Linked DNA regions of Homo sapiens: regions 1, 2 and 4 are each reported to be linked to region 3. Evidence: microRNA targets listed by miRTarBase, many of them from high-throughput screens and not tested one by one. Region 3 holds a microRNA gene; each other region holds the end of a gene's coding sequence.
The links. The annotated mature microRNA hsa-miR-2114-3p reads CGAGCCUCAAGCAAGGGACUU and lies in region 3 at 5,262-5,282, shown strand. An mRNA with a match to its seed (bases 2 to 7 or 8) in the 3' UTR can be bound and repressed. Matches are read on the target gene's strand: a 7mer-m8 pairs with bases 2 to 8, a 7mer-A1 pairs with bases 2 to 7 and ends in A, and an 8mer does both.

Region 1 (7,118 bases), not on the chromosome of region 3:
CCCAGCCACATTACTTCATTCTTCAACCTTGAAAGTCACTTGATTTATTTTCCTTATTTATTGCTACAGTTTAAATAGGGGCTTCATTGGCTCCAGTTGCTGCGTTTCCTAATACTAAACAATCTGTTGGTTTTAGGATACCTTAACTTCATTTATTTATTTATGAATGAATGAATGAGATGGAGTCTCGCTCTAGCCCAGGCTGGAGTGCAATGGCACGATCTTGGCTCACTACAATCTCCACCTCCCGGGTTCAGGAGATTCTCCCTGTCTCAGCCTCCTGAGTAGCTGGGATTACAGGTGCCCGCCACCATGCCCAACTGATTTTTGTATTTTTAGTAGAGACGGGGTTTCACCATGTTGGCCAGGCTGTTCTGCAACTCCTGACCTCAGGTGATCTGCCCTCCTCGGCCTCCCAACGTGCTGGGATTACAGGCATGAGCCACTGCACCCAGCCTTATTTATTTATTTTTTAAGAGACAGATTTCACCATGTTGGTCAGGCTGGTCTTGAACTCCTGGCCTCAAGTGATCTGCCCACCTCGGCCTCCCAAAGTGCTGGGATTACATTTGTGAGCCACCACACCTGGCCAAGAATACCTTGTTAAATTTTTTAACCTGATAGTGTATTCAGGGTTTATGGCTCATTTAGTTTGAGAGTGTTAAGAGACTGGAGTTTTAATCCAATAGGTGTTTCTTTTGGTTCTCAGATATACATACAAGCTGTGATTGTTTAGATGTTTCCATCTTTTTATATATGCATATACATATTATTATTGTTGTTTTTTATTTTTAGGAACTGAAAGAAAATGGTGAATTGCTGCCTATACTGAGAGGAGAAAATTAATAAATCTTAAACTTGGTGCCCAACTATTGTAAGAAATATTTAATTACATTGGGAGCAGTTCATGATTTAGTCCTCAGAAATGGACTAGGAATAGAAAATTCCTGCTTTCTCAGTTACATGTTTTGTGTATTTCACAATGTCGTGCTAAATAAATGTATGTTACATTTTTTTCCCACCAAAAATAGAATGCAATAAACATCTTCAAATTATTAACAATAATTGTATGAAAAAAGTGTATCTTTACAGCAGTATTAAACATACAGCTACTATAATTAACCCACCTTAAATCTCTTTTTCTTAGTACATGAGTATCTTCTAGCAGTTAAGAAAGGCAGTCTTCAGAAAATGGAGAACTGTGGCGGAATGCAGTACACAACAGTATTTAGGACAACTCCTTTGCCAACACAATGGCTCCCCTCGCTGGTGAAAGATCTCTTTACAGCTTAGGAAAAACAACGGAAATTAGTTTCTGATGTCATTGCTGAGCTCGGCACTGGTTACATTGCAGAGGCAGTGTAGGATGTCTGCAGGTTTAGAGACTCATTTCACAAGGCACCAGTAGTGAATTATCAAGAAACATTTAAGAGGAAAATGATTTCTCATTGAATATGGTACAACAAGCACTTTTTTCATAAGGTCTAGAAGAATGGGTAGTCATGACAAAGAATGGAAAAGTATTGTCATTTGTTGTAAGCATCACTACTTTTTTTTTTTTTTCAGACGGGGTCTGGCTCTGTCACCCAGGCTGGAGTGCAGTGGCACGATTATGGCTCATTGCAGCCTCGACTTCTCGGGGCCAAGCGATCCTCCTGCCTCAGCCTTCTGAGTAGCTGGGACCACAGGCGTGCACCACCATGCCCACCTAATTTTTTATTTCTTGTAGAGATGAGGTCTCCTGCCTCAGCCTCCCAAAGTGCTGGAATTTACAGGTAGGACCACCACACTTGGTCCACTTACTTATAATAAACATTGATTTGGTCGTTCAGGTTCCTTTGGTCCTCCTATTGAGAACAGTTTGAAGTCCATGAAAATTTTAACAATATTTTTGATCCTGAATCTAACATATTTGAAAAATAGTTGCTCCACTAGGCTTCCACAGTGCAGGCTTCAAATGGGATGGCTAAATTCACCTCATGGTTCTTAGTTTTTTTTGTACTTGTGGCACATTCTCTTCATATATTACCCCACCCTGTTTGTTTGGGCAGTTAAGATGCTGGTACTGTCTGGTGGCGATAAGGAAAGGGAAACAGAAGTCAGTAATTCAGACAAGAATAAACAGGATGAAATGCATCTATTCCTAGGTAAGATTAGCCCACCACCTCCACACTGCTGCTGTCTCTTCAGCTCAGGCTGTTTTTCTCTGTTTTGATTGTGTAAAGAGTAGAGTGCTGATTTGTGTGTTACAGAGGGTGGTCTGTACAAGTCATAAAGCTCGACATGGCCTTGCTTCCTGCTAGGTGTTAGGACACCCATGATGGTGGAGTCTCTTGGCATTCTGTGTAATTAGATAAGGCTGTTTATAGCATTGGTCCATGAGAACTTCCTTGTTTCTATTTAAAATGAAAATCATTGTATAAGTAAAACTTCTTAAATGTAGATAGAAATAGAATTTTTACTGAAATTTTATGAAGCCATTGGCCGCAGGGATGTGTGTCATGGAGGAGGGCTCCATACTTTTTTGGTATACTTATCTCAAACTTAATTCATTTGCATACTGCTTTTTCTCTAAGTGCCAACTGTCCTAGTATATTTTCTAAGTCAACTTTTACTTTCACTTTATCCTAAGCAAGAATATCTTTGGCATCACAGACTCAGTAAGCCTGTTTTTTTCTAATGCACATACAAATAAATAAAATGCACAACTTTTAACATAAATGGCTGCCTCCAATTTGGGAAATACTGTTCTGGCCAGAGGCCGTTGCTCTGATAATGTCATGTGGTTAGTGCATTTTAGGAAGACCTCCTTTCCCTTTGGTTGACTCCTGCAGGACATAAGATATCAGTGACGTTATCCTTTGTTGAGCCATCCTGGTTTGAGTCAGGATGAGTGTTGAGAGTTTTTGGGGAGTTGCCCCTGTGTCCTATATTATTTTATCCTCTTAAAGTCTGATGGTCTTTGGCTCCACTGACTCCAGGTAAGTTGGGGTGACAGTGCAGCATATTTCTATTTTCTAGTTGTTTCTGGCCAGACATGGGGAAGGTCAAGACATCTTGTTCATGCAAACGGATTGATGGCCATTCCTAATCTGATTTTATTAGTGTATTTTAGGAAGTAAAGTAAGATTCTTGAGCCCAGCTGAACTTCCCCTATTGAATTTTCTAACAAAAAGAGAGTTTGCGTATGGGTTTATAATTGAGCCTGCTCTTGTAGAAATGTTTTATCAGAATTGAAATCCTCTCTGATCCCCAAATTCTAGAGACAAAGTTGTTTTCTGAATTTGAGAAATCTGTTCAGTTCACAAGGAAAGGTGACAATGTGTCATTTGGATGTTGTCCCACACGTGAGGCCTCGTTGGGTGCTTGTGGTGGGAGGGACCCTCCAGGCAGGCTTTGTATGGAGGGTTTTCATGTCTGGACACATTTCTGTTCCGAGAAGCACTGCTGCGTTTTTGGGAGCGTGGACCCTGGCCAGAGCCTGTGGCCAGCTCTGCCTGCCCTCCCTTTCTTGGCCTGCTCTTTTGAGTATGTAGTGGGGCTTTGTGTGGCATCCTGCCAGGTTAAAGCTGCATGGTGCTTAGGATAGAGCTGGTGCTGTGGGGAGGCTCTTGATGATGGGGGCTGCCATCTATTTGCCTGTTAACTCTTAGAAACCAAACCTCAAATGTCAGAATTTCCTTTCTAGAAGAGGCTGGTTGAATAGGAACCAGAAAGGCCCTCATACAGGCAGGGCTGTTCACTCCTCTTGACTTGCGTGTTTGTGCCTTCCTTGTAGGAAGGCTTCTTAGGGAATTGTTATCTGTTTAGGGGAAATAAGCCTGCAGGAATGAACTTTTTTTTAAAATAAAAACTCTTGATCAAAAATGGAAAGAAAAAAACCAGTGAAACAGGCTAGGTAGTTTGTGGAATTCTCCTTTGCAGGTGAGGGGAGAAAGCAGCTATCTCAAGGGCACAGCTACAGATTGGGAGCTGGGGCTTCCATCCAGGGTCTGGGACACCCAAACCTTAGGCTTGCCCCTCCCGGGAGGCCTCCCCCTCAGAGCTATGTGGGATGCAGTTGCCTTTTTACCTGTGATGAGAAACTGGTGAATTGCCAGGATTCTGGCTCTGGCTTCAGTCTGCCCCTTTCCGGGGATTAGAGGGCATTAACCCTACTTCCTACAGCCAAGCAGCTCTTCCTCATGACTCTACTTTCTAACTCCGGGGGTTGACTGATTGATTTGAAGACCGCCTTGTTGATGAATGTGTTGAAACTTGCTATCATAATGTAAATGCTCCTTAATAAAATAACAGGACCTGGTGGGTTCAGTTGCCTTGCCCACGTGTGACTTACATGTTTTTGCCTTTTTTTGTTGAACACTGAGCCTTGCAGAACCATCAGGAAGTCCACCTTGGTCCCACTGGATTGATCATTAAGAAGGAAGGAAAAAAGTTATTTGCCATTTCCGTTCTTTACAAAAATGTCTTAAGTCTGCTGAGGAGTAGACTAAAAAATAGCATGTTTTTATAATTAGAAAGCCTCATTTTAATAACTTAAAAATGTTTAATCTCTGAAACAACTGTAATACATTTTAAGCGCTTGGTAATCATTATCTGCCTTATTGGAAAGAATTATACAAATAAGACCTATCTTGACAGTCAAAAGTTACAAGCTTAAGATTGCAATATGAAACATGATTTCTGGTTTAGTTTTTAAAGTAAAATCAGCTTTCTTTTCCTTTGTTTTTTGAGACAGGGTCTCCTCTGTCACCCAGGCTGGAGTGCAGTGGTGCAGTCATGGCTCACGGCATCCTTGACCTCCCAGGCTCAAGATCCTCCCCCGTCAGCCTCCTCAGTAGCTGAGATGACAGGCATGTGCCACCATGCCCGGCTGTGTTTTGATTTTTTTTTTTTGTAGAGATGAAGTCTCACTATGTTGCCCAGGCTGGTCTCAATCTCCTGGGCTCAAGTGATCCTCCCACCTCAGCCTCCCAAAGTGTTGGGATTACAGGCCCTAGCCACCATGCCTGACCTAAGATCAGTTTTCTTAAATTTGACAGTTGCTACTTTTCAAAATTCAAACCTTTCTAAATAAAAGTAAGTTGATTATTTGCAGATGAATTCTTGTTTTATACACATTTCAGATGTTGAGTTTGAGGACCTAGACCCTTCCCTTTTTGTCTAGTCACATTTCCTCACGGCCGTCCACTGATCGTTGAATCAGCGTAAATATGGACAGTTTCTCTTGAGTCTTTGGGTCTTCATTTCTGAAGGCTCCTGTGTCACGTAAGACTTAAATAAATCTTACGCTTTTCTCTTGTTAATCTCTTTTGTTATAGGAGTGTCGGCTGTGCCCCTTGTGATGGGTGAGGAAAGGTATCCACCTTTCTGAATCAGACACAAGCTGCAGTAGCTTCCTGATGCCTCATTCACCAGGATGGGTAACTTTAAAGACAAGTTTTATAACTGGCATCCCATCTGGTTTCAGAGTCTTGGGGGCTTTTTTCATACAGCTTTGTCTGATATTTAGAGACATTCAGATTCAGAAGCCATGAGTTCAGTTAGCTCATGGGCCGGGCACGTGCACTGACTCACTGGCTGCAGCAGAACACGTTGAGGGAGTCTTGGTGCACTTAGGTCACTGTAAGGTTCTAGGGCTGGGAGCTGGGATTTGAACCAGGATCTGTCAGCGCAGCCCCAGTGCTGTGCTTGAAGCCTCGTGCCACACTGGCTTTGAGGTAGCACGCTGCAAGTTAGTGAGTGGAGTTGCCCAAGTCTGGGGCTTCTGAAATGACCTGGTATTTTTATGTTCCTGTTAGAAATGGTGTGGCTTTCACAAATTAAGTGCCAGGCTGGGCACAATGGCTCGTGCTTGTAATCCCAGCACTTTGGGAGGCGGAGGCAGGCGGGTTGCTTGAGCTCCGGAGCTTGAGACCAGCCTGAGCAACATGGCGAAACCTCATATCTACAAAAAATAAAAAATTAACTGGTCATGGTGGTGTGCACCTGTAGTCCCAGCTACTTGGGGAGCTGAGATGGGAGGATTGCTTGAGCCCAGGAGGTCAAGGCTGCAGTGATCGTGCCATTGCACCCCAGCTTGGGTGACAAAATAAGAGCCTGTCTCAGAAAAAAAAAAAAAAACAAAAAAACCTAATTGCCAGGACCCGCAAATTCTGACTGAAAAAGACCTTCTTGTTCTCCCCACGGTCATTCATCTAAATGGTTGTCAGTGGTACAGTGTTCATCTTTTCTCAAAAAGTCAAGTTTTATTTGAGGAAGTTACAGATTTCCATATGAACTCCTAGAGAGAGAGCCTGCCCTTGTTCAGGGTTGCCCGGGGGATGCCTGCCATGTGGTAAGGTAAGGGTTTCTCTGCCCCTCATCTCCCAGCCTGCTGTCCCCAGGAGCGAGTTCCTTAACCCCTAGCCGTGTCGTTGAGCCCAAGCTTGTAACCTGGATATGGGAGCTGTCTATTTAGGAAGAAGGCATGTGTGGTAATTTCTAAAAGAATTAAAATAGATTTTTATGCTCTTGTATTATGTTTTGTGCTTAAAAGGAAGAGCCCCGATATAATGGAGAAAAGCCAGAAGGAGCTTGGATGCCCTCAGAGAGCCCTGTCACCTGTCTGTAGGGGCAGAAAGGAGGATGCCTTTCCTCACCCATCACAAGGGGCACAGCCAACACCTAGAATAGATTACCAAGGAAAAGTATAAAATGTATGTAAAGACTTAGGTGACACAGGAGCCTTCAGAAATAAAAACCCAAGAGAAACTGCATGTTCACACTCAGATTCAACGAAGAGTGGGTGGCTGTGCAGAAATGTGATTGGACAGAAGGGAAGGATCTAATCGTAGACTGGATGGGGAAGCCTTGCCCCGTGTGTAGCTTTCTTCCTTCCAGGTACAGGGCAGGGCCCTTCTGGAATGAAGGTCTGGGATCCATTTTCAGATAAAGTAGTGTTGAGGATGTCTTTGTGGCCGGCTCCTGTAGTGGACCTCAGATCCGGGTGCTCGCCAGTTACAGAGTCCAGTTGACAAGAGCAAGGTCTGGTAGAAAGAAAGTGACTATTAACCAGAACTAGTCATGGGGATATGGCTGGATTCCCACCCAAAGTAACTACTTTGAATTCTGGAGAG
Region 2 (7,118 bases), not on the chromosome of region 3:
GGATTTTTGTGGTAGTGATGGTTGTCAGTGCTGCCAGTTTCCCAAAACGTAATCAAGCCTCTGGTCACATGGCTGTCGATGTAGGCATTCTGGAGTGGTGTTCAGCCAAGTGACCGGGCAAAATTGGGCTGTGAAATTGTACTTCCAGGCTTGGATGTAATTTTTGCTCTAGAGAGAAGCAAGTGGTGGGAAGGAGGTAGCATGACGTGTGGTGTGCGGGTTTCCTTGCTGCCGTCACCTCTCCGCTCATACAGGAATGAAGCCTTAGCCAGGAGGCCAGGCTCAGCCCTGTGCCACTCACCGAAGCCACTTTCTACAGGCCAGCAGGGGCTTGTTGCAGGCTGTGGGTTTTGGTGTGGTTTGTCAGAGGCTAATTCTGCAGAGTTTCCAAAACCAGAAGACATCGTATGCTTGGGATGGGGGCCGTGCCACCCGTGGGAATGCTGCCCGCTCTGCAGACTGCTGCTAGAGCCAGCAACTCCACTAAGGTGGATTTTCATCAGGGGCCTGCAGGGCCCTCCCTTTTCCCATTGTTCCTGCGCTGCAAATTGCAGGCCCCAGCAATCGTGACTGACGTTTGCTCCTTGACTCCAAGAAACTGAGACCAAAGAAGCTGCTGTTCTTAGCAAGATGCGCACTGCATTCCACAGGTGGGAGGAGTCGGAGAGGCAGGGGCTTGCTTTGCAGCCCCACAGACAACAGTTGCACAGTGCCTCAAGCCCCAGAGTGGCTCACCCTGTCCAGACCTTTGAGGATATCAAAGGACAAAGTGCCCAAGTCTTTCCTACCTTGGGGGAACCTGGAACTTGGAAAGGCTCCCTGTCCTAGTCTTGATCTGTTCTGGGCCAGGTCCCAGCTTGAGCTGCCTCTGAGATTTGGGCTGTGCGGATCTCTGGAGTGAGCTCTGTTTCGGTTGACCCAGGTCATGGAATGGAAACGGTGAGGCCCCAGTGGCTGTTCTGGAAGAAACAGATCTCCTGGCAAAGGCCCCAGCATCTCCCTCACTGAAACCAGGTGGCCGGCTCCTCGGACTCTGCTTTATGTTGCGGTGAGAACTCTGCCCAGGTGTGCAGGGTTTGGCTTGTGGGCTGCTTGCTGCTCATCTGATTTTTGTCCCAGTAGTCCCTGCGTTCTTCATTCAACCCCTTCTGGGACTTCAGCTCAGAGAGCACCATCCCGGGGGTCAGGGCCTCCCCACAGGAGCCCTGCAGTGTGGTAGCGCCATGGCTGTCTCAAACCAAGCAAAGGAAGGACCCTGAGGCCTTCACGCTAACCGTCCTCGAGCAACTGCTGTTGGAAGGCCTCCCTGGGCCTGGCCCCCACCCTCTGCCACCCAGTCCTCCCAGCTGCCATGTTTCAAAGACGACCTTTACCTCCTGCCTTTGGATTGACTCTGCATTTGACCACGGACTCCAGTCTGTGTGTAGGGAGAGAGCTGAGTAGGAGGCCTCCACTCCGGATCGAGGCCTGTATAGGGCTCGTTTCCCCACACATGCCTATTTCTGAAGAGGCTTCTGTCTTATTTGAAGGCCAGCCCACACCCAGCTACTTTAACACCAGGTTTATGGAAAATGTCAGGCCTTCCCCACAACTCCTGTCTAACTGCTGTCGCCCCCCTACTTGCTGGCTCTCAGAAGCCTAGGGGAGTCCCTGTGGTCCTGAATTCTTTCCCCAAAGACGACCAGCATTTAACCAACCTAAGGGCCCAAAGGCCTTGGACAACTGCATGGAGCTGCACTCTAGGAGAAGGAGGGGAACCAGATGTTAGATCAGGGGAGGGAGCAGGAGTGTCCCTCCCGTCAGTGCCTACCCACCTGTGAGGCAGCCTTCTGATGGCCTGGCCCACCTTCCCCAGAACCAGGGGAGGCCTGAGGCTTCAGTTTTACTCTGCTGCAAAATGAAGGCGGGCCTGCAAGCCGACTACACCTACGGAGGCTGTTGAGGACAATTTCATTCCATTAAATTAAAAAATACTGACTGGCTGGCAGGCAGGTGCCATGTCTGGGAACAGGGACGGGGGAGCTTCACCTTTTTGTCTTGGCTTTTCTTTGGGCTGTGGGGGGGCATCCATTTCCAGGGTCGGGGAGGAAATACCAAATGCATTGTTGTTCTGCTCAATACATCTCACTTGTTTCTAATAAAGAAAGCAGCTGAACAAAACCTTCTGTCCTGGTATTCCTGGTCAGCAGGTGGCAGTGGAAGAAATGGAGTGCTGGAGCCTAGGCTGGAGCCAGGACGACAGGGCTTGGACACAAAGTCCCTCAAGCCCACAGCACCAGGCCAGCTTCCAAAGGCCTTCCTTTAAGGCTGCCCTTCTTCCAGGGCAAACTTGGTGTTGTCAGACCCTTCCCACCCGCCAGAGACGAGCTGCTATTGACCCAGGTTCACTCCAAGTTAGAGCAGCAACTGGGCTCTCAGCCAGCACCTGAGCACCTCAGCACAGGAGCCGGCCCAGGCTTCCCTAGCTGGGCACAGAGCAGCCCCCTTGGTCCAGGTCAGCAGTGGCTCCTCTGGTGGAGGTGCAGGCCCCGTGCCTTCCCACTGTGCCCAGGTGCCACATCTCTCCTCCTGCACCACTGGCCGGGTGGTTCTTTGAGTCACTAGGGGTGCATTTTAACATGGCAAGTTGCTGGGCCCCAGTAGCTGTGTTTAAGACTTCCCATTCCCCCTCTTCTCATCCTCTGGAACTTACCCATTCCCTGACCCCCTGATCCTTTCAGGTCCATGACTGGTGCCTCCAAGCCCCTTTCCAGGGAAACTGAGAGGACACAGGACCTGCCTGACCCCTCTAAAGCCCCCCAACCCTCCTGTCCCAAACCAAGTCACTCAGGCTCCTATGGCCCATGCCTTTTTTCCTGCCCTTAGCTTTGGGCTGAGAGAACATAGCCCTATGTGTTGTTTCTACCCATGGGCCTCTGGGATAAAAAGCTGTGATTTCAGGCTGGGCATGGTGGCTCACGCCTGTAATCCCAGCACTTTGGGAGGGCGAGGCGGGTGGATCACGAGGTCAGGAGATCGAGACCATCCTGGCTAACACTATGAAACCCTGTCTCTACTAAAAACACAAAAAAATTAGCCGGGCATGGTGGTGGGCGCCTGTAGTCCCAGCTACTTGGGAAGCTGAGGCAGGAGAATGGTGTGAACCCGGGAGGCGGAGCTTGCAGTGAGCCAAGGTCGTGCCACTGCACTCTAGCCTAGGCGACAGAGCGAGACTCCATCTCAAAAAAACAAACAAAAAAAAAACCCTGTGATTTCTCCCTTGCTTCTGCTTCCCAGTTCACTTCCTTAAAGACTCTTGCCCTTTTGGCTGGGTGCAGTGGCTCACGCCTGTAATCCCAGCACTTTGGGAGGTCAAGGCGGGTGGATCACCTGAGGTCAGGAGTTCGAGACCAGCCTGGCCAACATGGTGAAACCCCGTCTCTACTAAAAATACAAAAATTAGCTGGGTATGGTGGCGGGCGCCTGTAATCCCAGCTACTCCGGAGGCTGAGGCAAGAGAATCGCTTGAACCCGGGAGGCAGAGGTTGCAGTGAGCCGAGATCACGCCATCGCACTCCATCCTGGGGGACGAGCAAGACTTTGTCTCAAAAGAAAAAAAAAAAAGACTCTTGCCCTTTCAAGGCAGCCTTCTCAGTATTGGGCCCTCATCCTAGCCTTCACCCCTTCCTCTTGGTACCAGATACGAAACCAGAGAAGCCAAGCAGGATGGGCACTCAGCCCTGGGTCTGGTGCTCACCTGACCCAGACCCCCCAGCCAGCCCCTGGCCAGACCTGGCTCTGCAGGGGCTGGGCAATGCTAATGGCTCTTCATTTGCTAAAACTGGACTTAGCCTCACTGTGCCTCCCATCCTGAGGCTGCAGTTTGGCAGCCTGACCCTCTGACAGCCCTGAGTGCCAGATGCCCGGGCTGCCTGGCCCGGCCCGCCTGGCTCGGCCCATTCCTTCTGGGCCCTTTTGATTCTGATTATCCTCTTTCAGACACACAAATTAACCAGAGCCAAACGCCACTCCCAGCATGAAGGAGCGGGGGACACTGCCACTTTCTGCATTAGTTCTTGGAGTTGCTAGAAGGTGGAGTCTGCCCCAGCCCTGTGTTTTGGTTTCTGTGGGGCTTGGGGCCAGTTCAAGGCCTATCCCAGCCCAGTTCCAGGCCACCCTCTGGGGACTAATGTCAAGTTCTGCCCTTGTCCAGTGCCGGCACTGTTGGCTGGCAGAACCTAAAACACCAGGCCTCCACATTTCACCCTGCTGGCAGGGGCGGGTGCAGGATTTTCTCCAGATTCTGTCGCCTAGTGTCCAGTGCGCTCTCCTGGCATTTCTATAGAGGCGGCCCAAGCAGCGTTTCCAGCCTTTGTGTAAAAGGCTGGCTGGCTGGAGGAAGGGAAGCCCGTGTCCTTGGGATTTGCCCTACTGAGCAGACAGGGGCCTTGAGCCCAGCCAAGCCTGGAGAGTGGCAGTCTGAGGGTCCCTCAGACTCCTGTCTCCTCCTCATTCAAGGCCCCTCTGTGTATGTGTGAGTGTGTGTGTGTGTGTGTGTGTGTGTGTGTTGTGGGGAGGCGCTGACCTGCTGAATTGGCATCCTCAGACAGTCTTGTGATACTCGCAGCAGCTTTAAGCCAGGAGCAGGGATCGGGCTATTTAGAGCTGTGGCATCTCCTGCTGCCACCCCCTGGCTGTCTTAGCCAAGTCCATGCCCTGTTGAGGGGAGAGGCCCAAGAAACTCATCCAGCCCTGTCCCTCCTCATGGGCCTGTGGGGGTGGCAGCATAGAGGTGCTCAGGGAGTGGCGGTGGTGAAATCAACGTGCTTCTTTATTTTTTAAACTAGATAGGCTCATTCTACTGTCTTCTCCAGGGCTCTTCTATGAAACAGTTACAAACCTACGGCCAGGCCAGGCAGTGGCTCACACCTGTAATCCCAGCACTTTGGAATGCTGGGGCAGGAGGATCACTTGAGGTCAGGAGCTCGAGACCAGCCTGGGCAACATAGGGAGACCCCCGCCCCCCCCGCCATCTCTACATAAAATTTAAACATTAGCCAGGTTTGGTGGCCTGTGCCTGTAGTCCCAGCTACTCAGGAGGCTGAGATGGGAGGATCGCTTGAGCCTGGGAGTTCAAAGCTGCAGTGAGCCATGATTGCAACATTGCACTCCAGCCTGGGCGACGGAGCGAGACCCTGTCTCAAAAAATAAAAACCAAAACCTACTGCCAGTTTCCCCAGGGCTTCATGCCTCAGCGCTCCCTTCTTGCTTTGAGAAGGGAAGGGGAGCTCAGGTTCCGGAGCTGGAGGGAGGAGTCCAGGAAGGCCTGGGGTAAAGGAGGGCTTAGGGGCTAAGCTCGGGGTCGGGGCCAAGTGGAGTGACTGCGCTCCTCTGGGGGAAGGAGGCTGGGATGGCCCACGGGAGGACAGAGGGGAACTGAGGGCCCACAAGTGTCCTGCTCCCCAAGTCTCCTGGCAGCAACAGGCTTGCTCCTCATAAGTCACAATGAGGGGTGGGCTGAGGACAAGAGGAGCTGGGGCCATCTCAGGGCCCCAGGGTTGGAGCTCACTGAAGTCACATGAACACCTTTCTGTTCTTCAGGAGGGGCCCAGGCAGCCCTCAGCACCCAGGTGAGACCAGCGCCTGGTGAATGGGCTGAGTGGGCCAAGTGGGTGGGCTGGGGGGCTGGTACTCCCACCACCTGACTCCAGAGGAGGAGAGGGCTCTGCAGGGGATGTGGACTGGCACTCGCAGAACCCCAAGGCGAGTGAGGTGGGCCCTCAGGAGCGCTGGATGCGGATTTGGATGAAGAGCGTGGCTGGTGACAGTGAGGCCCCGTCCTTGGAAAGCAGGTGTATGTGGCGGTACCCTGTAGGGAGGACAGCCAGGCCTCAGGTCCTCTGTGCACCCTGGGGGTCTGGCCCAGCCCGGGCCTGCTTCAGGGCAGGAAATTCGAGGCACAAAGGTGAACAGGGTCTGCAGGACCTGGACCCACATCCCTCTCCATCCCCACCAGCCTCCACCAACCTTGCTTTAGGCTGCTAAGAGGCAGTGTAAACTGGCCCACAAAGTCATTGGGGGAGGTGGCGTCATAATCTTCCACCACAAACCGGACCAGTGCCAGCTCCGGAGCCCGCAGCTGGAACTGCAGGGTCTGCCCCCAGCGGGGGTTGAAGCCTAGGGCACAGGGATGGCAGTCAGAGCCCAGGGGCCCCAGGACCCACCCTGCACCACCCTTCGCTCTCTGCAGTCTCCCCCAACCCCACTTCCGCCAGTGGCTGCCCACCATTGTTGAGCACGTAGTCAGTCTCCTGCCGGGCACAGTCTGCGGGCACCCCATGGATCTCAATGCGCACCAGGGGGTCCACAATGGAGTGTGGCTTCTCGGCATTCAGCTTGGGCAGCTGCTGTGCAGTCAGCACCTGTGGGTGAGGGAGGGAGTGGCTGGGGCCCACGCCCACCTTGGCCATCCCCTCATGGGCCTCAAGCTCACACCACCCTCACTTCCAAATGTCCCCAGCCTCCCTTGCCTTCCTCCACCTCACAAAGAGCCTTTCTAGAACCAGTCTGACCCCACACTGGGGCCCGTTCCAGCCTGCTGACCTGGATGCTGAGAGTGGTTCTGGGAGGTCCTGGGTACTCGGGGTCAAAGGTCGAGTCAGGTTGCCGCAGGCAGGCAGGTTTTAGGACGTAGCCACACTGCCCATTGACTAGGAAGCGCCCGGCATTGAGGTCCATCTCGTAGCCTGGCGTCTGGAAGTTCAAGGCCACTGTGGACACAGCAGGGTCAGAGCAGGGGCTCTTAGCGGCCCTGTTCTCACTACTCAGTTTCAGGGGACTGCATTCCTCTCTACAAAGGGCCTGGGGTCCCACTGTCTGCTTAGTGCTGCTCTGCTCCCACCATGACTTTAGGGGAGGGGGTCATGGACCCAGCCCCCACTGTCACCTGTACTTCTGCCCTGGGATCCCTCAAGACTGGGGTGGGAGGTACTAAAAAAGCCCCCACCCTCAGGGCCAGGCTTGGGTCAGAGCCAGGGGTCTGAGGAAGCCTGGGGTTTCCATCCTTACCCCAAGGAGACGATACAGCCCTCCTTTGGTGGGGCTCAGCGTCCCCCAGAGCCCACCCTTGTCAGTGTTGA
Region 3 (7,118 bases):
AAGCAGACTAGAATGGGACAGAGGGTACAGGGTTGTGCCATGCCCTGTGCTCTGATGTGACTACTGGGCTCCTCAACAACTCCCACTGTCAAGCATTATATTCCAAGAGCACAGTGAAGGGTTAGGGACTAGAGAATTCTTACTTGCAATAAAAAGTCATTTTCCCTGCAAGGATTTCAATAAGAGAGATTTTTGGGAAAAAATAATAGCTATGGGTGTATTTGGCCATTGCAAAAGATAATCAGCTGCTCCAAATGCATAGAACAGCCTTAAGTACCACAGGACCTGCCTTCAACAGCAAATACAGCCACAGTCAAGTTTGTGTGCCCTCGAGTTTAATATGGTGTGATTGATAAACTGCACATAATTTAATAGTTTTTCAGGAAGAAAGAGAGAATCAGCAACATGGCATTGAAGGTACCCGTTGACAGTGACGTGCATCACAGCATTAACAGGTGAGGAAAGCATGCGGCTCTGAAAACCCTCTCCTTGCAGCCCAGCTCACGACCCACAAAGGCCTGCGGTGAGGCCAGTCACTCTGCTAGCACAGCCAGTTTGTCTGTCAGTCACAGGCAACAGTCTTCCTCCTGCCCCCTCCCTGCCCCCATAGCCCCAGTTCCCAACTCTGATCATGTTATAACCAAGAGCAAAATGTGATGCTTCTCTGTTCTGGCAGGAGAAATGCTTGTGTGTGCAAATGGGAGACAAAGGAAAGGGACCACCACATCCATGGAGTGCACCGCGTGAGAGAAATGCTCAGGAAGGGAATTGACCAGATTGGCTGTGGAGAGAAAAGAGAAGGAACATGGGAGGCAGAGGTATACCCAGGCTTCTGGCAGGTTACGGAGACCTGTACCCAGGAAAGAAACAACAGTCGGCAGGGGAGCTCCAGGTCTGGATCCGCCTTGAGCAGGGATCATTGTGTGTGCCTGAAGCTCCGTTTTCCATGGCCAGCTCTATTATGAGGGCTCAGGGGAGCTGGGTTAGGCTAGCCATGTCCCATTCCTGAAAGGCCAGCTCTGGGTCAGAAATGTGACCTCTCTCTCCTAAAGCCCCAGAGACTGAGTGCTCCTTGTGCATCTCCCTAAATCCTGTTGTTTGTCCAGGCTCTAGCTGGGTCCCCCTTAGCAGCCCGCTCAGCAAGGCAGGCCTGGAGTCCCACCACTGGGGCTTCTCTCTCAGTTGGTTCCACCTCTCCTAGCTGAGCAACCAGGCTTTCACTGCTGAATGTCTGAGCCAGCTCCATCGTACAACAGGAGTGAGGGAAGTACCTGCTTCACAAGGTTGTCATAGCCATCAAATGGGATCACACTCTAAAGGCAGGTAGGGCAGTGCCTGCATGGCACTTGGTGGATGGTCAATAAGACTTTATCCTTCTTCCTTCATCTTCCTCTTCCTCCTTCCTGTTTCCCCTCCTCTCCTTGGTATTGTTGCTATTTTGTATTGGTTTCTGTGCCTACTGTAACAAATTACCATAAACTTCGTGGCTTAAAACAGTGACAACTTATTCACTGATGCAGAAATGTATTTATTCATTTATTCTCCAACAGTTCTGGAGGCCAGAAATCAGAAATCAAGGTGTCAGCAGTTCCAAGCTCCCTGCGAAGGCTCTAGGGGATAATCCTTCCTTGCTTCTTCCAGCTTCTGGTGGATCCAGGTGTTCCTTTGGCTTGTGGCCGTATCACTCCAACCTCTGGCTCCATCTTCACCCTTACCTACTTCCCTGTGTATCTTGAATCTCCTGCCACTCTCTTATAATGACACGTCATTGGATTTAGTGCCTATTTGGATAATCTGGGATGGTATCTCAAGATCCTTAATTACATCTGCAAAGACCTTTTGCCAAATAAGGTCATATTCACAGGTGCCAGGTAGACATATCTTTGTGGGGCCACCATTCAATATACTACAGTATGAATATTAGGTTTTCTTGTCAACCCCAGATTCTCAGGCCCAGCCACCTGCATTTTCCCTGAGCTGAGCCTCTTCAGAACACTCATGGAGCTACGTGCCTATGGCCACAGTGGGAAGCAAGACCACAGCTTGTATCAGGTCTCCAGAACTTGTGGCACAGGGCCTTGGCCATCAGGTGACCCAAGCCTTTTACTGGCCTAGCAGGGGAAACTAAGCACCGCCCCCTGTTCCCACGCAGGAGACAGTAAGTCTCATGCTCTTTCCTGCTTGCTTTCAGCAGGTATCTAGAGGGCATCTCCCATAGGTCCAGCCCAGCCTGACTGCTGGGACACAGTGTTATTAATTAATTAATAACCAAAACCTCCTAGGCATCTCCCTGGCAGCCCCAAGGCCATCTTCCTGCCCCTGCCCTCAGGGCTCCACAGGCTTTGCTAAGGGCATGCAAACAGGCTCTCCCATTGCCGAGTGGACTGGGGCCACAGTGGGCCCTAAAGCACAGAGGGTGGGAAGAGCTTATCCTAGCCTTGGAGCTAAAGTCCTGGATTCAAATCCTGAGGACCATGTCTGTCACCTTAGACCATGCCCTCAAGGTAAAATAGCAGCTGTGAGCCCTGATGAGGTTGTGAAGCCCATACAGGGAGGGGAGTGCAAGCATTTTACAACCTGCAAAGGGCCATGCAGGAGACAGTCTTAAGAGATGCCAGGCCACTCTTCCCACCTGCATAGCCTAGGGGCTGGGATTGACCTTTCTCCTGCATCAGACAGGACAAACAAATGCCCCCCATGCTGGGAAAAGCCAGGACTCTGAGAGAAAGGCAGACCTTGAGGGCGGGGATGGGAGGATGCCCGTGCAAAGCTTAGCCCCCCTCCTCACACTTTTCTAAGAACGCAGTGATGGAACAGAACAAGAGAAAGACCATGTCTTTCACCAAAGGGGGGAGGGGACAACCCAGTGACCAATTTCAGTGATTAGCTGCAAGAAGAGGGTCCTTTATTCCAGGCGTGTGTATGCCTTTTAATTTCCTCTTGTGGGCTCCTGAGGGGGCCCAGTAACCGTGCAATTGGTATTCCTCTCCAGCCTTGGAGGATGCGGGCACTCTCTCGGAGATGGCTCCAGGTGGCACAGAGTGCCACCTGCACTCCCAGCTTCCCGATTAACTACTCTGCAGCAGACCTCCACAGGGCGATGAAGGGGAGGTGATAAGCTGGCCCAGCTCTGCCCTGGAGCCCAGGTGGGTCTTCTCCCGCCCGGAGGCAGCAGCGGCAGCATTAGGGAGGTGCGAGTTGACCCTACCTCCTACCTGCTTTGTGCTAAACCAAAACAAAAACCGGTGTCAAAGGGGCTTGGCCCCCTTCAGCAATTGAAGGCATAGAAGTTACACACCGGGCCAATTAGGGAGTGGAAATTTGCATTACAAGAAGACCCTTTGCTTCACAAAAGTAGTTCTCATAAGATTGCAATAGATGGCACCCAGGGGGGTTAAAGATTCAATTTTCAAAACCGAGTTTTGCCCACAACTCTTTCGCAGCACGTTCTGTTGTGGAAAACCAGTCTCCAGACTGACTTTTGACCAGCCTTCCAGCCCCAAGATTTGTTGTTTACCAAAGGATACATGCCATCCTTATACTATCTCATACTCAACCCCCTTCTTTGCTATGCCCGGGGCAATTGCTCCAAAACAGATATGGCTCCTCCCAGGCTGGCACCTGGCTCCCGGAGGTAGTCACAGTGGACAAGTATCTAGGCCTGGGGTGGAGAGTACGAGCTAGACCTGAGTCCCAGTCCTGCTGAGCCATCTCAAGTTGCAGGGCCTGTCCCCTCTTTCAGGCCTGAGTGTCCACATTTATAGAACAAGGGAAGGTTGATAGAAGAATCTCCCAAAGTGTTTTTCATTCTAGGAGTTCATTCCTAGGCATTGCTGGGTGGCCCTGGGGATACTCTTGACCTATGAAGTAAGATAGGGACATTGCCTTAGATAACGCCAATAATAATACACAGGGGAAAATCCAAATGCCTGCGTGCAAGTACTTTAGCCCTTGTACCATTTACAGATGCTGAAGGTGCAGCGGTGGGGATGGCCTGTGTCCCTACAGAAAGCACATCTTACAAGTCACACGCCTCACCATCTAAGTGCTCAGCTTTCTGAAACCTGCTCATTCAGAACATATGAACCTCATGCTGTGGTATTCCAGGTCTCAGCTTGGCAAGCTCAATGATGTTTTCATTCCAATCAGTGCTGAATACAAACAGACCCTTATCCCTAAATTGTGAAATTTAGAGAAAAGTAGAGTCTCAAGGTGCAAAATTTGAACCTCACAAAATTTAACTAAACCGAAGTTTGGGATATAGTAAGAGCTCAAGGAAATGGCTTCTAATTGCTCATTGGGAATAGATTTTTGAGATTAAAACAAATTTTTCAAACCTGTCCAGACTCAGAGGCTTGGGAGTGAACAGTTGTCACTTAACTTTATGGCAGTGGTGGCTGGAAGCTCGCCCACCCTGATTCTTTGTTCTCCCTCCCATAATTGCTCAAACTGAGAGGTCTGTAGGCACCTTAAGGATTCAAAGTGATTTGTGAAAGTTGTAAAGTCCAAGCCTCAACTAGAGAGTTGTTCTTGGAGGTAGGAAGTTTGAGGGACTTAAAATGAACTGGGGGGAAAAAGGCAACAGAGGAAGAGTGAGAACAGAGAGAGAGAAAGGCTCAGAGGAAGGAAGATAGGGGAGGGGGGGAGAGAAGGAGAGAGAGAACGTGAACATTTCCTGGTGATTTTAATTTTCACATCACAAAACACCGCACGTCTGTCAACCGTTATATTTCCTGTGCAGCCTTCTGTGACCACATGGAGTACCTCAGGGAGGGAAGAAAATAGAATTCATTCCTTTCTACCCCCAGCCTGATCTGCCCACAGCTGTTTGGGCACAAAGGAAGGAGGGTAGAGCTCTGGAAAATTGCCAAGAGCGCCTCCTCTCTCCAAGGGGAATGACCAATTTTCACCGCCACTGGAAGGGTGTGAGCTGTCCCAAACTGCCCTCTGGGATTATGCTTACTCGGTTCCACAGGAACATTTAGAGAGACAGAGGTTGCCTTGGGTTATCAGGGCCACAGGCTTCCTGGGTCTGCTTTTGGCACCTAGGATTCCATGAAGAGGGACTGACAGAACCTGAGAGCTGAAAAGCACCTCAAGAAGTCATCGGTCCAGTCTTGCCTCTAAGGACTCTCCATCTCAATCAGCAGGACCCTCACCCAGTCAGCAATGGATCAAACGTCCCAGCTTCTGGGGCCAAAGACAGGCCTCTGCCTCCATGCTCCTAGTCCCTTCCTTGAAGCGGTCGGATAATCACATGACGAGCCTCAAGCAAGGGACTTCAAGCTGGTGGCTTCCAGCAGCTAGCTTCCTGCTTCCGAACCATCATTGCCTCCTATTGAAGTCCTCCCATCCTCCACTCCCACATCTATCCAGGCCCTGGGAAACTTTGCCAAGAAGCAGATGATGGCGTCTGCCTTTGCCTGGGTGATGAGATGACTGGCTTCTGTCCCAGTTCTGCCACTCACCAGATGGATCAGTTTCTCATTGCTGTTATAACAAATTACCACCAACATAGTGGCTTAAAACAATGCAAATTTACTATTATACTTTTGGAGGTCAGAGGTCCAAAACAAATCAGTTTCACTGGCCTAAAATCAAGGTGTCAACAGGGCTGGATGCTTTTGGAGGCTCTGAGGGGAGAATCCATTACTTTGCCTTTTTCAGGTTGGCCACCTGTATTCCTTGGCTCATCACCCCCTCCTCCATCTTCAAAGCACATCGTTTCAATCTCTTTCTTAAGGTATCTTGCGGAGGAGGTCCCAGAGGCACCAAAGGGGTGACAAGCACAGATTGCTTTAACTGCTACTCAGAGAATGACTCTGCGCCAAGCCCTGTGCTGAAGGCTTTACACTCACAATCCTTGATATACACATGGAGCTCTTGTCATCACATCCCTTTTTCTTCTGTCTGTGCCAAATCTCCTTCTGCCTTCCTCTTATAAGGACACTTGTGATTGCATTCACAGCCTTCCCAGATAATCTAGGACAACCTTCTCACTTCAAGATCCTTAACTTAATTACATACACAAAGTCCCTTTTGCCATATAAAGTCATATTCACAGGTTCCAGGGGTTAGGATGTGGACATCTTTGTGGGCCATTATTTAGCCTACCATACCAGTAATAGGTCTTTGGCAAGTAAAGTCACCTCACCTCTCTGAACCTTACTTTCCTCATTTGTTCAGAGGGGAGAAGACTCCTGCCCTGCTGACTTCCTGGGCGCCCTAGGAGGTTCCAGTAAGAGAGTGAATGTGATGACATTGTATGCTGTTGAGTGAACACCAGAATAAGTGCTGAGCCTGGTTCTTGTTGCCCTTCTTATGAAGCTGTGGTCCCCTCAGTTCAGTCACCCAGTGCTATCTTCCTCTCTGGAGCCTTTCCTCTGTGGCCTTTTCCAGGCATGTCTTGATGAATGTACTCCAAGTTAAATGTGTCACTAAGCCAACTGGCTCCTCCTACCCTCTCCCAATGATTGAGCGTATAGAGTGGCTATGCTGACTTTGGATCCCAGGCACTGGCAAGTGAACACCTTAGTTGGTTAAAATATCCCTTCCCACTCTGCTGTGTTATGGTTTCAGTGAGACCCATGTGTATATGAAGAAGATTGTGAGTGTAGAGCCCTCAGCACAGGGCTTGGCACAGAGTTGTTGTTCTCTGAGTGGCAGTTAAAAATGTCTGTGCTTGTTGCCCCTTTTGGTGCCTCTGGGACCATCCTTTACCCCCTCCTCTGCAAGATACCTTAAGACCACAGCTAGCAGTCACAGCAGCAAGTGCAAGCACCTTTTGACATTTATGCCATCCTGGCCCTCTGCCAGTTGCTATCCATATCACTTTGGTTGGCCAAGCCCCATTGTCAGCCTCAGCTGGCCAGCATTCTTGGAGACAGGTCACAGTTTGTTCAACAGCTGATAAGAGGTGTGTAAGGGGCATCAAAGGCTCTGAATGGAGAGGTGGAAAAAGCCCCTGGGTGCATGGCCCTGGATGACTCTTGGGGTTTAGAAGAGACCACGGAGATGACCAATGACCAACAAGCTTTCAAAGGGAAATGCTTGCCTCTACCAAACTCAGGGGAAGTCATATCTTCTATCACCCCGGCGGGGGGCTTCAGTTAAGCTTG
Region 4 (7,118 bases), not on the chromosome of region 3:
CATGTTCCTCTTGATTTTGGAACAAGTCATTCCAAATACCATCAGCTCAAATGACTGGATTTTCTAATGGCTATTCAAAATTTATCTAGGTTAAGAATTGAAAACTGTTATGTAAACCTATTATAAAACTCATTCACTTTTAAAGCAGATAGTTGAGAAAACAACGTAGACACTCCATTTCTCACACCTGATCTGCTCAATTACCCTGATAATTTAAGGCTAAAGAAATTCTTTTGACTTGAATCTAAAGTGCTAATCCCAGTGTTTGCTTCATTCTCATTTCAGAGACATAAACTGTATATCAATATAGGGTCTCTTTTCAAGATGTGAAATGCTTATGCAGCATTTAATGTTTGTAAATGTCATTCTTTTGCATAATACTTAGATCACATATATGATGATCTTTAAAATTCGGTGACTGAAGTTCCTGTATAAAAAGATTTGATTATCTTTTGAACCTTGCAGACCCTTACTTTTGGTGATGTGGTTGCTGTTCGCCACTATGAGAAGGCATAAAAATGTTCCTGGTCGGGGCTTGGAAGAGCTCTTCAGTTTTTCTGTTTCCTCAAGTCTCAGTGCTATCCTATTACAACATGGCTGATCATTAATTAGAAGGTTATCCTTGGTGTGGAGGTGGAAAATGGTGATTTAAAAACTTGTTACTCCAAGCAACTTGCCCAATTTTAATCTGAAAATTTATCATGTTTTATAATTTGAATTAAAGTTTTGTCCCCCCCCCCCTTTTTTTTATAAACAAGTGAATACATTTTATAATTTCTTTTGGAATGTAAATCAAATTTGAATAAAAATCTTACACGTGAAATTTTGTTGTTGTTTCTAATATCATTAATCTGGCTAAGAATTCTATATTAGACAATTTTAAGTAAAATAGTCACTCTTATAGCATAAAGTAAGGCTGAAAAAATTAGCACTTTGTTTAAAATACTAATTTAAAAAATAAGCAAAAGCCTTAGAAAATACAGAAATGCCACAGTTTTGGTTGAGCCTTCCATGAAGAATCTGTGATGGTAAAATTCATTTGGCCAGGACCCAGAGAAGCCTTGTATAGTGGGTTGGGCTACGGAAGTGGTGTCGTTTTTTCCTTTTTTTGAGACAAAGTTTCAGTCTTGTTGCCCAGGCTGGAGTGCAGTCATGCGAACTCTGTCTCCCGGGTTCAAGCAATTCTCCTGCCTCAGCCTCCTGAGTAGCTGGGATTACAGGTGCCCACCACCATGCCTGGCTAATTTTTGTATTTTTTAGAGATGGGGTTTCACCGTGTTGACCAGGCTGGTCTTGAACTTCTGACTTCAGGTGATCCACCCGCCTCGGCCTCCCAAAGTGCTGGGATTACAGGCATGAGCCACTGCGCCCGGTGGAAGTAGTGTCTTTAGAAGAAACGGTTTGAAGAAACAAAATGATGTATATCAAAATGTCTTATTAAAAGGTAAATATAATCAAAATATCATGTAATCAAAATTTCTTATTGAAAGGCAATAGAGAAAGGGAGTGAATTTTATCCTGGATTATAAAAAATGTTTCTCCAGACAACTAAACTGAGTTGGATAAAGTCAATGAGAGTGCAAATGGAGTGCTGTGCATAAAGACACTCAAAATTTCGGGGTGGTGGAGCGGGGCGGGGAGAAGAAAGGGAAGGTGATTGAGTTGACCAAACCAAATTAAATACTTGTTTGTATCTGGCTGGGGTCTGAATTTGTGAAATACAAACAAACAAATATTTTACATATTTCATCATTTACAAAATGCTTTTTATACATTTTCTCAACCATACAATGTTTAGCAAGAAGGCAGGTATTATTTATTTTTACTTTACCAATAAGGAAATTGAAGGTTAGATTTGCATGTCCAAGTTCTCATGTGTAGTAAATAATATTGAGAGCTGGAAATCTTGCAATATTTCTCTTTATTTCCTCTCCAAAATTAATATTTCAGCTAACTTTTCTTCTGAAACAAAAACACAAGATTTTATTCTCCCCGATCATTCCTTTTCTTTGTTAGCCTCTTGGGAGGCTAGGGAGGTAAATATATTTCAGCACTTATATGTAATACTGTATTCATTTTTAATCAGCCCTGTGTTTTAGTAAGTTTTTATAAATTAATTCAAAGTTCAATTAACTGGCCAGGCACAGCAGCTCACACCTGTAATCCCAGCACCAGCACTTTGGGAAGCTGAGGCAGGTGGATCACGTGAGGCCAAGAGTTCAAGACCAGCCTGACCAACATGGCAAAACCCTGTCTCTACTAAAAATACAAAAATTAGCCAGGTGTGATGGTGCATTTCTGTAATCCCGGCTACTCAGGAGGCTGAGTTAGAAGAATTGCTTGAGCCGGGAGGTGGAGGTTAAAGTGAGGCAAGACTGTGTCATTGCACTACAGCCTGGGTGACAGAGAGAGACTCTGTCTCAAAAGAAAAAAAAATGTTCAATTAACTTACAGCTATAAGTATGAGAAAATTTTCTTTTTTTTTTTTTTCCTAAGAGATGGGGTCTTGCTTAGCTGCCCAATCTAGTCTCAAACTCCTGTGCTCAAGCAATCCTCCTACTTCAGCCTCCTGAATAGCTGGGACTACTGGCACATACCACTGCACTCAGTTTACCCGTCTTTAAAAGCATGAAACACAACATGAACAGGTTGTTGGCTCCAACTGTTCTGACAGCCACCATCTCTGCTTCTGGTGGAGGGCTGTTTAACAACTGGATTTCAGCCTACACTCTACCAGAAGCCCAGATTCTGGCCTCTCTCTTATTAAAGATACAAAGCCAAAGATAGAGATTTATCTTTAGCTCATTAAAATGAAGCCAAATAACACTGGCACCAGTTTCCATAACAACTGTCTCCCAGAGTGAAGAATGAAAAGGTTTTTGGGTGGCCTAAATGGGAAACAAAGATGCAATGGTCTGAAAGATCAAGGGTTGCAGTGGTAGAACAAATGATTTTAAGAGGGAAGATAATTAACATGTTTGCTTCCTAAGTTTTTCTGGGTAGTCGCAAATCATTTTTCTTCAAACCAAATTCTATTTCACACTGTCAATCTGTCAATGCACTAACTTTTCTGGTTTGCCGTCTTTGTTTTGTTTCTTAACATAGTTAAGAAACATAATTAAAGGAAAGGAAAAATGACCAAGACCAAAGGCAATTTGACCAACAGGCCCTGGAAGAACATTTCTGAAATGATACGAAGGTCTCAATGATACAAACTAAGCTAAGGCTGTTTTGTGAAGCTTCTGCTCTTCTTTCATGTGATTTCCCTCACCCAGATATACACACTCACGATGACATATTTGTACACCTGGCACATGGAGACCTACAAATATATGCCCATGGTTGAGATATGCCTGTAGAGATGTTGGGGCACTGTAGTTTTTTGCTTCTTAGTGAGTATTAAGAAAAAAAAAAAGAAAGTGGAGTGAGTAGAAAGAAGGATGGTGTTTCTACCCACTAATTTTAATATACTGTACTTTTTAGGATTTCAAACATTTCTTAAGTTTCAAAATGTGTATGCCTTGTTTTATGCTTACTGAAAAACTATTTTGCAACCAGTTACTTCCAGTAAAGTATATTGAAATTGGAAAAAAAAAAAAAAGGAGTGAAAAGAGCTATTTTTATAATTTATCCTTTTCCTAGCTTTAAATGTTTGGACTAAAAACTCCTAAGTTGTTTTGTTAATCCTTACAGTCGTTTTCTCTCACCAGCTCACCAGTTTTTTCTGGCTCCATTTTCTCCCATATTCTAGAGGTTGTGAACTGAGAAACTCCAGGGACCATCTTGTCCTCCACTGGAATGCACTTTGGTTCTTGCAAGCTTTTGAATCATCCAAAAGCTGAAGCAGGACTTCGGCTGCCCTGGCAGGACTTGAAACTGTAACACAAAAGTACCTGAGACAGGTCTCAATCAATTTAGGAAGTTTATTTTGCCAAGGTTAAGGATGGGCCAGTGACACAGCCTCAGGAGGTCTTGACATGTGCCCAAGGTGGTCAGGATACAGCTTGCTTTTATACATTTTAGGGAGACATGATACAGCAATCAATACATGTAAGATTTTTACATTGGTTCGATCTAGACGGGCAGGACAACTTGAAGCTGGGCGGGGGGTGGGTGTTTCCAGATCACAGGAAGATTTAAACATGTCCTGATTGGCAATTGGTTGATTGAAAAAGTTATTATCAATAGAAAGGATGTCTGGGTTATGATAAGGGGTTGTTAGACCCAGATTTTGTCACACAGACGAAGCCTCCACGTAGCAGGCTTTAGAGAAAACAGATCTTAAATGTTTCTTATCAGACTTATGGTCTATGTTGATGTTAATTACGCATGTCCAACCCCCCCATCCCCTTTTTCATGGCCTGAACCAGTCTTTCAGGTTAAATTTTAGAGTGCCCTGACTGGGGAAAGAGTCCATACAGATGGTCGTCCATTCAGATGGTTGTGGGGGGCCTTCAAATTTTATTTTTGGTTTACAAAACAGAAAATGGAAGCACCTTGCTTCCCACTTCAAAGCCCGTTTCATGACACACACTCCCATTAAATTACATGGGATACAAAACAAAGCTTTCTATGCTGGGAAAGAAATACACTCTACAACATCTTTTTTGAGGTTAGTAATTATGGAAAGCATTTTCTTCTGCAAAGGAATTCCACGCCCTATAAATTTAAATTATTAGCTTGTCATCTCCAAGAGATCAGCATCCTCATAAACGGTGAGAGAAGGAACACAGAATACAGGATCCAGCACAGTTTCGGGATTCTGGCTTCTTTGCCAGACTTATCTTTGCTTACTTCTTTGTATAGACTTACTTCTTTGCCAGACTTATCTTTGCTTACTTCTTTGTATAGACTTACTTCTTTGCCAGAAGTATATTCAAAAAAGTTCCGTGGAAGCATCAAATCAACCACCTCTACTTATGATTTCCATGCATCTCTGGAATGCATAAAGCATGATTTCAGAACATGTTCTAATTCTAAGACCCTTCTCTTCCCGGCAGTTTAAAAAAAACAAAAAACAAAACGTCGTATCTTTGAGCATTGGTTTTCAAACATCACAATCACTTTAACATGACCTGAAATGCTTGTGAAAACACAAACTGCTGGGCTCCAGCAGGTTTCTGACTCAACAGGTCTAGGGTGGTGCCTGGGAATTTGCATTTCTAACTAGAGTTCCCAGGTGGTGCTAATGTTCCCAGTTCAGAGACTTCAATTCGAGATCCACTGCAGTATCCATAACTTTTGCTGATTTCCTTCAAATCATGATACTTCAGGGCTCTCTGCATCACCTCTACTGAGGAGCCCTACCCATTAAAGCTGGGGTAGGTTGGCCCAAGAATGGAACCGGGATCGTTGAGATTTCAGCACCCCAGCATTTTTTAGTGACTGAAATAATGAAAATTCTGATCAGGCTCCTGCTTGCTTGCACATTTTAACCACTCGCTTTTTGCCCAATATTCTCCTTGTTTCCACAATATAATTATAAACTGCTGAGGTACTGCTTCCTCGTCAAGAACAAAGAGGTTAACTTCAGGGTCACAAAAATGTTTGCAGAAGGGATGAATACCTCCAAGGGCTTTGCAACCAGCTGCGGATGCCTGGACGTCTAATTGCTCAAAGGTGTTATCTGAGACTGAAGAAACAGACTTTTCCCCTGGATTCTTTGAAAATCCCCCTCTCTTATTCTCTAGCAGAATAAAAACTCCCTGCTTTTTCCTTTTTACACACGGATTTGAGAGATCTTGTTCTCCCTCCTTCTGGCTTTTACTAAATTGAATGTCTTTCTCTATCCCCAAGCACCAGTATGTCAGTGTTTGACATCAACTGCACCACTGATACACGAGTCGGAATTTGAGCTTCTACAAGTACATTCCTTCCTAGGCCAAACACTGACGCTAAGAAATACGAGAACAGATCATCGCTAAACAGCAGCTGAAGGTCAGGCGAACTGACTCGCTGCGGAATCTGCCTTTGCACGTGATCAGTCGGACGTCTACACCCGCAGCCGTCTTCTGTCTCCGCCTCACCCTCAGGCCTGACGGTCCGAGTGGAGCTGCGGGACAGCCCGAACCTCCAGGTCAGCCCCGCGGCCCTCCATGGCGCTGGTGCGCGCACTCGTCTGCTGCCTGCTGACTGCCTGGCACTGCCGCTCCGGCCTCGGGCTGCCCGTGGCGCCCGCAGGCGGCAGGAATCCTCCTCCGGCGATAGGTGAGTTGTCCGCGACCCTTCTCTTCCCAGCCGGCAAAGAGCGCGGAGCGGCGGCGCCTGCGCACAGCAGGAGAAAGTGCGTGGGGGCAGCTGCCCCCGGCAGAGGCTCGGGCTAGCGGGGCCCCTGACGCGTCCGGCGTTGACCACGGCTGGTGGGCGCGGGGAGGGCGACCAAGGGACTACAGCGTTAGGGCGTCCAGCCGGGAGGCCGGGGCTGGGCGGGGGAAATGCCCTCGCCGGTGGGGGCGCTCCAAGGGCGCGTCGGCCGGATTTCGCCAGCCTGGCTTTTGTTTACATCCTGCATCTCAGTTGTTTTGTTCCTTGGGGAAGGAAGGAAAAGCTGCGGGACTCAAGGGAAGAGGAAGCTGGGAGTCCGATGTCCAGCACAGCAAGAGGCCCCTAATCGGTCCTGAATGGAGGGGGACTGCAGTTTCCCCACCAGCTCAGGGAAGTAAATTTCAGCGTGACTCACACTATCTTCTGTCTTGCTCGACCGAGATCAGTGGCTTTTTCTGCCACTCACCCAGCCAGAGCGCGAAAGCACCCTCGGGTAGACTCACCCCTTAGTCTACCGTGGAACTCACGGGGACTTCATTTCACCTGGATGTCCACTAGGTTTCCTGCGGGCGGGACCCATTTTATTCACTCCCAGCACTTAACACAGTGCCCGTTACAGTAGTGATTCTCTTAAGTGTGCCCTGGACCGGTGGCAGCAGCCGCCGCACTTAAAATTGTTAGCATTGCAAATTTCCAGCCCATCCCAGACCTACTGAATCTGAAACGCCGGCGTTGGGCTTCCACAGTATGCTGTTTAACCCACCCTCCGCATGATTCCTTTCGGCTAAGTTTGAGACTCACTGGTCCAGAATAGATACATTTTGGTGGGAGATTGTACAATGCCATCCGAGCCT

Region 1: miRTarBase lists GLRX3 as a target of hsa-miR-2114-3p. The part of its 3' UTR that is shown has no 7-base or 8-base seed match.
Region 2: miRTarBase lists PLCD3 as a target of hsa-miR-2114-3p. Seed matches in the 3' UTR shown: 7mer-A1 at 5,100-5,106.
Region 4: the mRNA of FABP7 is a reported target of hsa-miR-2114-3p. The part of its 3' UTR that is shown has no 7-base or 8-base seed match.

Annotation. Positions count from the first base shown.
Region 1 is chr10:130,178,547-130,185,664 of GRCh38, forward strand. It overlaps GLRX3 (glutaredoxin 3), which reads left to right. Exons shown (of 11, transcript NM_006541.5): 11 at 796-1,126. The coding sequence ends at 846. LOC124902561 reads left to right here and starts at 1,567. Exons shown (of 2, transcript XM_047426136.1): 1 at 1,567-1,775; 2 at 5,322-7,118.
Region 2 is chr17:45,106,857-45,113,974 of GRCh38, forward strand. PLCD3 (phospholipase C delta 3) reads right to left here. Exons shown (of 15, transcript NM_133373.5): 12 at 6,583-6,749; 13 at 6,266-6,401; 14 at 6,007-6,156; 15 at 2,103-5,848. The coding sequence ends at 5,760. NMT1 (N-myristoyltransferase 1) reads left to right here. Exons shown (of 12, transcript NM_021079.5): 12 at 1-2,160. Among named protein-coding and RNA genes, the nearest start is that of MIR6784, 4.0 kb to the right of the region's middle. RefSeq lists enhancers at 3-504, 5,074-5,939, 5,940-6,804.
Region 3 is chrX:150,222,791-150,229,908 of GRCh38, forward strand. It overlaps MIR2114 (microRNA 2114), which reads left to right and starts at 5,214; the gene lies at 5,214-5,293. RefSeq lists enhancers at 2,476-3,063, 3,064-3,649.
Region 4 is chr6:122,783,252-122,790,369 of GRCh38, forward strand. It overlaps FABP7 (fatty acid binding protein 7), which reads left to right. Exons shown (of 4, transcript NM_001446.5): 4 at 466-823. The coding sequence ends at 516. It overlaps SMPDL3A (sphingomyelin phosphodiesterase acid like 3A), which reads left to right and starts at 6,007. Exons shown (of 8, transcript NM_006714.5): 1 at 6,007-6,207. The coding sequence starts at 6,096. RefSeq lists enhancers at 5,817-6,318, 6,319-6,818 and a silencer at 6,033-6,327.